Linked DNA regions of Homo sapiens: all the other regions are linked to region 1. Evidence: fine-mapped expression QTL. A gene starts in region 1. Each other region holds a variant in brackets. All regions are shown on one strand. Distances are between the middles of the regions.

Region 1 (2,759 bases):
TAGATGGAACCGGGTGACTCGGAGGGTTCCCTCCTGCTCACCGAAACCAACAGCGCCGCCCCTCCCTCGCTCCCGGCGTCGGGATTGGGGGAGGACCCCAGCCCGCAGCCCCGGGACGGGCGGGCAGCGACGTCACCCTCCCCCACCCCGAAACCTACGGCCGCCGAGCCCCCAGGAACTCCCGGGAGGGGGCCGCCGAGTCACCCCCTCAAGACCTAGCCCACCGTTCCCTTTCAGTCTCCTTTCTCATTTTATTGGAGATGTCTTTATTCTCCAGTACCCCACTTTCCTTAGACCGGGAATGCACCACTCCTCAGAGCGAGGGGCGCTCCCACCTCCTCCGACCTCACTTTCTTATCCCCGGGACCCTCACTCCTATTTACGACCTTTCTTGGCATGGCAGGTGCCTTTATTTCTACGGATGCCCCTCTCCTTCCCTCGAAGATCGTCCCCACGACTCCTGGCTCCCCCTCGACTTGCACCAGGGCACCCCTTCTCCACACCCCACCCCCTACACCCCGCTTCACGCCCCCACCGCCCGCGCGAGCCCACCCCGCGGACTCCGCGGCCAGACGCCCCCGCCTCGGTCTGCGCTGGAGGGGGCAGGAAAGCCGCGCTCGCCCCTCACCACCCACCCCCCACTCCCATCACTGGGGGGTCCGGAGCGCGCGAGGCTTCCAGGCCGCTCCGCTCCTCAGGACCCGAACTTTCTTGGAAGAAGGGAAGCGGTGACGACGGGAGAGGAAGGGGCGCAGGGCTGGGGCGCGGAGCTTGCGGCCCGAATGCGTCCCTCGCAAGTCAGGGGATCCGGGGTACCTGCAGCAGCAGCAGCAGCGCCGAGAGGCTGCGGCTCCAAGGGCCCATGGCTGGCCGGGGACGCCGAGCGAGGGCAGGCGCCGGGTGCGGTCGGGTCGGGCCGGGCTGGAGCGGGCTGGAGTCTGAACTGACTTCCGCAAGCTCACAGGTGCTTTGCAGTTCCGACGCCACTGAGAGGGGGTGCGTGGCTGCAGCCAGGTGAGCCCCGGAGGCACCGCCCCCCGTACCGCTGATTGGCTGAGGGTTCACCTGCCGGCCACAGCCAATCAGCAGCGCGGACCCCTCCCCAGGGCGGAGCTGACGGCCCGCCCACCCGGCCTCGCATAGACGCGGTGACCCTCTAGCCTGGAGTTGCTAGGGTCTAGGTGGGTTATGGGACCTGCACGGTTCTGATTCCACTGGGTTCGAATCCCAGCCCCGCCGGTGGCTCACTAAGACCTGGGATCAGAAAGGGCTTTTACACTTGGCTGAGTTCTTTTGTTTTTTGGGATTTTTTGTTTGTTCGTTTTGGAGATGGGGTCTCACTCTTTCACCCAAGCTGGAGTGCAGTGGTGCGATCACAGCTCACTGCAGCCTCGAACTCCTGGGCTCAAGCGGTCCTCTGGCCCCAGCCTCTCTAGTAGCTGGGAGTACAGGTGCACACCACCACGCCAGGCTAATTTTTTTTTCTTTTGCCTTTTTGTAGAGAGACAAGTCGGGGCGGACAGGGGCAGTGGGGGCGCTGTGTCTCCCTGTATTGCCCAGCCTGGTCTCGAACTCCTGGGCTGAAGCGATCCTCCTGCCTTGGCCTCCCAAAGTGCTAGGATTTCAGGTGTGAGCCATGAGCCACTGAGCTAGCAGCCTAATTTTTTGTTTGTTTGTTTTGTTTGTATTTTTTGAGACGGAGTCTCGCTCTGTCTTGCCCAGGCTGGAGTGCAGTGGCACGATCTCGGCTCACTGCAACCTCCGCCTGCCGGGTTCAAGAGACTCTCCTGTCTCAGCCTATTGAGTAGCTGGGACTACAGGCGTGTGCCACCACACCGGCTAATTTTGTATTTTTAGTACAGACGGGGTTTCACCATGTTGGCCAGGCTGGTCTGGAACTCCTGACCTCAGGTGATCCACCCTCTTCAGCCTCCTGAAGTGTTGGATTACAGGCGTGAGCCACTGCACTCTGCCTCGAGCGGCCTAATTTTTTAAAAAATTTTTCTAGAGAGGGGATCTCACTATGTTGCCGAGGCTGATCTCAAATTTCTGAACTCAGGCGATCCTCCTGCCTCAGCCCCTTTACTGAGTTCTCATTTTTTAATCTAGTCTTTTTTAACTGTAGAGCTTCATGGGTTAGTGAGTCAGCAAATTGATTCCCTAGGTCAGGACCACCTCCCAAAGCCTCAGTTTCTCCACCCTCCTAATGGGAATAATGATCAGAAATGTCTCCCTATGCTGTTGTGGGACTCCCATACAATTAAAATGACAAATGTTTCTTGAGCCATAAATGCTCTGTACAGAAGTGAGGGGTAAAAATAGTAACAATAGGGCCAGGCATGGTGGCTCACGCCTGTAATCCCAGCACTTTGGGAGGCCGAGGCGGGCAGATCACGAGGTCAGGAGATTGAGACCATCCTGGCTAACGCAGTGAAACCCCGTCTCTACTAAAAATACAAAAAATTAGCCAGGCGTGGTGGTGGGCGCCTGTAGTCCCAGCTACTCGGGAGGCTGAGGCAGGAGAATGGCATGAACCTGGGAGGTGGAGCTTGCAGTGAGCCGAGATCGCGCCACTGTACTCCAGCCTGGGCGACAGAGCAAGACTCTGTCTCAAAAAAAAAAAAAAAAAAAAAATAGTAACAATAGGTGCTGGACATTGAAGATTACTGTGCCAGTCTCTGTGCTAAGCATTTGACACTGACCAGCTCTTTTTTTTTTGAGACGGAGTCCTGCTCTGTCGCCCAGGCTGGAGTGCAATG
Region 2 (2,759 bases), 68 kb before region 1:
TTCCTAATGTCTGAAATGGGGATAATATTAGAACCTATCTCATATAATTCTTGGAAGGATTAAATGAGATGCTGGTATTGCACATTTAAAGCACTGTGAATACTGCCTGAAACATAGTAAGTGCTCAATAAAGGTAATGATGGAGATGATGGTTGGACTGGTTGGAAAACACTGAGTTATGGTTTTATTGAGATTTGACCCCAGCACATGAACAAAATAAAAAACTGACCATCATCACTGTATCCTGGGCCAGGCGTGGTGGCTCACACCTGTAATCCCAGCACTTTGGGAGGCTAAGGCAGGCAGATCACTTGAGGTCAGGAGTTTGGGATCAGCTTGGCCAACGTGCCAAAACCCTGCCTCTACTAAAAATACAAAAATTAGCCGGGCATGGTGGCACACACGGGGTCCCAACTACTTGGGAGGCTGAGGCGTGAGAATTGCTTGAACCCGGGAGGCAGAGGTTGCAGTGAGCTGAGATCATGCCACTGCACTCCAGCCTGGATGACAGAGAGAGATTCTGTCTCAAAAATAAATAAATAAATAAATAAATAAATAAATAAATAAATAAATATACAAAAATTAGCCAGGCATGGTGGCATGTGCCTGTAATTCAAGCTACTCAGGAGGCTGAGGCAAGAAAATAGCTTGAATCTGGGAGGCAGAAGTTGTAGTGAGCCGAGATTGTGTCACTGCACTCCAACCTGGGAAACAGAGCGAGACTCTGTCTCAAAAACAAAAACAAAAACCAATCCCAGAAAAACCACTGTATCCTAAGCCTTAAAACAGCCACCTTGGCCAGGCCTGGTGGCTCATGCCTGTAATCCCAGCAGGCTTTTTCCTTTGGGAGGCTGAGGCGGGTGGATCACCTGAGGTGAGCTCAAGACCAGCCTGGCCAACATGGTGAAATCCTGTTTCTACTAATAATACAAAAATTAGCTGGGTGTGGTGGTGCACACCTGTAATCCCAGCTACTCAGAAGGCTGAGGCAGAAGAATTGCTTGAACCCAGGAGGTGGAGGTTGCAGTGAGCTGAGATTGTGCCATTGCACTCTAGCCTGGGTGACAAGAGTGAAACTGCATCTCAAAAAAGAAACAAAAACAAACAAACAAAACAACAACAAAAACTGGCCACCTTGCACAGCCATGGTGAGCACATGGGCACTGATGGATGAATGCAAACCCAGTTATCACAATGAAAGGAAAGGAACATGCATGCCTTGCTGACACCAGGACTGTGGAATATTTTCAGAGAATGAATAATGATGAACACTGTGCTGGCAAAACATCACACTAACATTTTCATGTGTTAAATGAAAGGGAGTCATGCCTGAAAACACTGCACGTGGAAGTGATCCCTCAGAAAAATAGGATACCAGGTGGGGCACGGTGGCTCACGCCTATAATCCCAGCACTTTGGGAGGCCAAGGCAGGTGGACTGCTTGAGGTCAGGAGTTCAAGACCAGCCTGGCCAACATGGTAAAACCCCATCTGTACTAAAA[A/T]CACAAAAGGAAGGGAAATGGAAGAAGAAGAAAAGAAAAGTAAAAAGAAAAGAAAGGAAGGATGCCAGACTGAGAAAACTCACCCAAATAAGATGAAAGGACTAGAGACTAAGATCTATTCTTACACAAATTTAGAGATTTTGAGCCTGCGCAACAAAGTGAAACCCTATCTCTACAAAAAAAAAAAAAAAAAAAAAAATTAGCTGGGCATGGTGGTGCACCCTGTGGTCCCAGCTACATGGAAGATTGAGGCAGGAGGATTGCTTGAGCCTGGGAGGTCAAGGCTGCAGTGAGCTGTGTTCCCACCACTGCACTCCAGCCTGGGTGACAGAGCAAGACTCTGTCTCCAAAAAAAAAAAAAAAAAAAAAAAGATTTTGTTACCTGGATATGTTGTTTTTTAAAAAAGTTAAAAATTAATCAATATATAATGAAAGCGAGGTAAGACTGCCATCTAATTACAGTACCACCTGGTTCCAGAAGGATCCTTTGAACTATAGAGACAAACCAAGGTGAATCTCAAACCAGCTGAGGCATAATCTGCTACCTACCACCCAATATCCACTCTTTGTTTCTGATTAAAAACAAAATAAAAACCTATCTCTCCAATATATATCTCAATTTTGTAATTCTGGAATATACATTCCAGAAATGTATTCATATGAAAGACTACATTCCCTACACTGCATGTGCAGCTAGATGTGGTCATGAGGCTAAATTTTGGCCAGTGTTTCTCAAGTGTTGCTTGTGGAGAATTCCACAAAGGTTTCTTAAAAGGCAGATAGGGCCGGGCGCAGTGGCTCACACCTGTAATCCCAGCACTTTAGGAGGCCGAGGCAGGTGGATCACAAGGTCAGGAGATCGAGACCATCCTGGCTAACACGGTGAAACCCCGTCTCTACTAAAAATACAAAAAATAAGCCAGGCGTGGTGGCGGATGCCTGTAGTCTCAGCTACTCAGGAGGCTGAGGCAGGAGAATGGCATGAATCCGGGAGGTGGAGCTTGCAGTGAGCTGAGATCGCGCCACTGCACTCCAGCCTGGGTGACAGAGCGAGACTCCATCTCAAAAAAAAAAAAAAAAAAAAAAAAAAAAAGGCAGACAGATAACTAAGTAATGAATTTTTATGCTTCTCCTTTCTCCTTCTTATTGCTTAGAATAAAGACATGATTAAAAAAATAAAAAAAGACATGATGACTGGAGCTCCAGCCGCCATCTGGGATCACGAGGTCTCCTTGAGGATGAGGTCATGTGCTGAGGA
Region 3 (2,759 bases), 35 kb before region 1:
AGTGCTGAGCTCCTAAACCCACTTTCCCATAAGCCTGGTGGTTTTGGTTTTTGTTTTTGTTTTTTGAGACTGGGTGTCACTCTGTTGCCCAGGCTGGAATCCAGTGACACAATCATGGCTCACTGCAGCATTGACCTCCCAGGCTCAAGCGATCCTCCCACCTCAGCCTTCTGGGTAGCTGGGACCCCCAGGTAATTTTTTTGTACTTTTTGTATTTTTTGTTAGGATGGGGTCTCACTCTGTTGCCCAGGCTGGTCCTGAACTCCTGGGCACAAGCGATCCACCTGCCTCGGCCTCCCAAAGTACTGGGATTACAGGCTTGAGCCACCGTGCCCAGCCTAAGTCTGGTGTTTTTCATGGGCAATTTGACATAGTGTGGTGATTTTGAGGAAGACCTACATCACAGGGTATGGAGTGAAGTATATATAAGATCTGTATACGGTGCGGGTTAGCCCAGAGCCAGGCCAGTTGTAAGTGGTCCATAGATGTCAGCTGTGACTGTTCTCTCGCTCTGAATGTAGACAGAGCCTGGTGCATAAAAGATGCCCAGTGAACATTTATTGAATTTTCCTTGATGGGTCTATGGCTTATTAATCTTAGTGAACTAATTAAAGAGACTTATCTATCTCTCCCATATGTTGGAGAGGGACAAACCATAAATTAGAGAGGAAGCTTCCAAGTTCTAATGGAGCCCCGCCCTTCCATGCATGGCACGAAGAGGATAAGAAAGGCAGTGTCCCTGTCTGCTAGGCCTGCCCGATTAGGTGGTAAGCAAGGCAAGGACATATGCGATTGGCCGTTGTGTGGCAACACGGGGCCAATTTTGAGATAAGGAGCCTAGACCCTGAGTCCTTAAGTCAGGGTCCCAGTGTAGCATTAAGTGGTTGAGAGCCCCAGGTCAGAGGTCAGACGACCCAAGTTCAAGCCCCAGATCCACTTATCAACTATGCCACCTTGGGCATGTGATTTCACCTCTCCTGCCTGCCTCGATTTCCTCATATGCAAAACAGAAATAGTGATGGTCTCTATTTCCTAAGGGGATGGGATGATTCAACAAGTTAATCCACGTAAAGCCCTTTAGCACTGTCAGACACAGAATAAAAGCTCAATGGGCTAGGCACGGTGGCTCGCGCCTGTAATCCCAGCACTTTAGGAGGCAGAGGCAAGAGGCCAGGTATTTGAGACCAGCCTGGGCAACATAGTGAGATCTCTTTACAAAAAAAAAATTTTTTTTTTTTTTTGAGAGGGAGTCTTGCTCTGTCGCCAGGCTGGAGTGTAGTGGTG[C/T]GATCTCGGCTCACTGCAACCTCCACCTCCTGGGTTCAAGCGATTCTCCTGTCTCAGCCTCCCTAGTAGCTGGGACTACAGGCATGCGCCACCACGCCCAGCTAATTTTTGTATTTTTAATAGAGACGGGGTTTCACCATGTTGGCCAGGATGGTCTCGATCTCTTGACCTTGTGATCCACCCGCCTCCACCTCCCAAAGTGCTGGGATTACAGGCGTGAGCCACCGCGCCCGGCTACAAAAAATTTTTTTAAATTAGCCAGGTATGGTGGCACGTGCCTATGGTCCCAGCTACTCGGGAGGCTCAGATGGGAGGATTGCTTGAGACTAGGAGTTCGAGACTACAGCGAGCTGTGATCTGCACTGCACTCCAGCTTGGGTGACAAAGTGAGACCCTGTCTTAAAAAGAAAAAGAAAAAAGGGCTCAATACACATTAGCTGCTATTCTGGGATTCTAGGGCTGAAAAAGAAGATCAGAGCCTGCGTAGGAAAGCGTAGGTGTGAGTAGCAGCCAGGGAAGGTCTGAGTTGCCTGGGACTGCAAGGCAGAACAGCCAGGAGCTAACTTCCACCAACCACGCGCCCCGAACCCTTTCTCACACACCAGCCCGCACTTAGCCGTGTCCATGGAAGAAATGAGAATCAGCTCTGTCTCCTGCACATCATTTCCAAAAGACGGGAGAGCCTCCTCCACTGGCGGGGAAAGGATTCCTATGGAACCTGACGCAGGAGTTGGCTGCACGGTCTGGTTTGCATCACTTCGTCTCGGTGGAAGCTGATGGAGGCAGAGGCACTTATCTGTCCTTCAGAAGATAAGGTCTAAAAAACTAGAGACCAGCTCTAGCCTCTGCCTTCCCCTCCCAGCTTATCTCCCGCCTGTGAGCCCATCTACCCACCAGGCCCTGCCACACTGGGCCTCTTGCCCACTCCACACACTGCGCTCCTTCCTGTCTCAGGCTCTCAGCCCTTGCTGTTCCTCTGCTTGGAATTCTCTTCCTACTGCTCTCTTCATGGTGTCCTCCTTTCTACCACTAGGTACCACACAAACATCCTCCTGCCTGATCCACTCCTCAGCTAAAGGGGCCCTGCACCACTACCCCAGGCACTCCCTACCCCGTTTCACTGCTTTACATCCTTCTAGAATGTGCTGCCCTCTGAAATCCTTATTTATTGCCACGTTCCCTGAAGGTGCGAGGCTGGTGCCTGGCCCACAGCAGGCTCTGAATGAATCTGGATGTCAACTGGCTGGTACCCACCTGAAGGCAGAGGCAGAGTCATTCAGCTGTCCATGAACATCCCCTAAGGGCCCTCTATGTGCTGCGGACTGAGCTTTGGGCTCCGGGAGTGGGGATGGGACACAAGAGACCCAAATACTTACCTCTGAGGTCCTTCCAGGCACAGGAAAAGATGTAGTCAGAGGGGGTCTAGCCAGGCGATGTCTTGTGGAAGACAGGCCCAGTCAGGAAGGTGACAGTTT

What was found. PIP is the estimated chance that this variant, and not a neighbour inherited with it, causes the effect. A credible set is the group of variants that fine-mapping cannot tell apart.
Region 2: its variant is the best candidate, but not a certain one, in a credible set for the expression of CDH1 in lung (TOPMed, PIP 0.81).
Region 3: its variant is the best candidate, but not a certain one, in a credible set for the expression of CDH1 in whole blood (TOPMed, PIP 0.73).

Annotation. Positions count from the first base shown.
Region 1 is chr16:68,735,521-68,738,279 of GRCh38, reverse strand. CDH1 (cadherin 1) reads right to left here and starts at 988. Exons shown (of 16, transcript NM_004360.5): 1 at 817-988. The coding sequence starts at 864. RefSeq lists a silencer at 873-942, a cis regulatory region at 1,895 and an enhancer at 1,823-1,967.
Region 2 is chr16:68,803,938-68,806,696 of GRCh38, reverse strand. The region is part of intron 3 of CDH1 (cadherin 1); the gene reads right to left. Among named protein-coding and RNA genes, the nearest start is that of TANGO6, 38 kb to the left of the region's middle. The variant A/T (reference allele first, on the strand shown) is at 1,502.
Region 3 is chr16:68,770,233-68,772,991 of GRCh38, reverse strand. The region is part of intron 2 of CDH1 (cadherin 1); the gene reads right to left. Among named protein-coding and RNA genes, the nearest start is that of CDH1, 34 kb to the right of the region's middle. RefSeq lists an enhancer at 592-886. The variant C/T (reference allele first, on the strand shown) is at 1,285.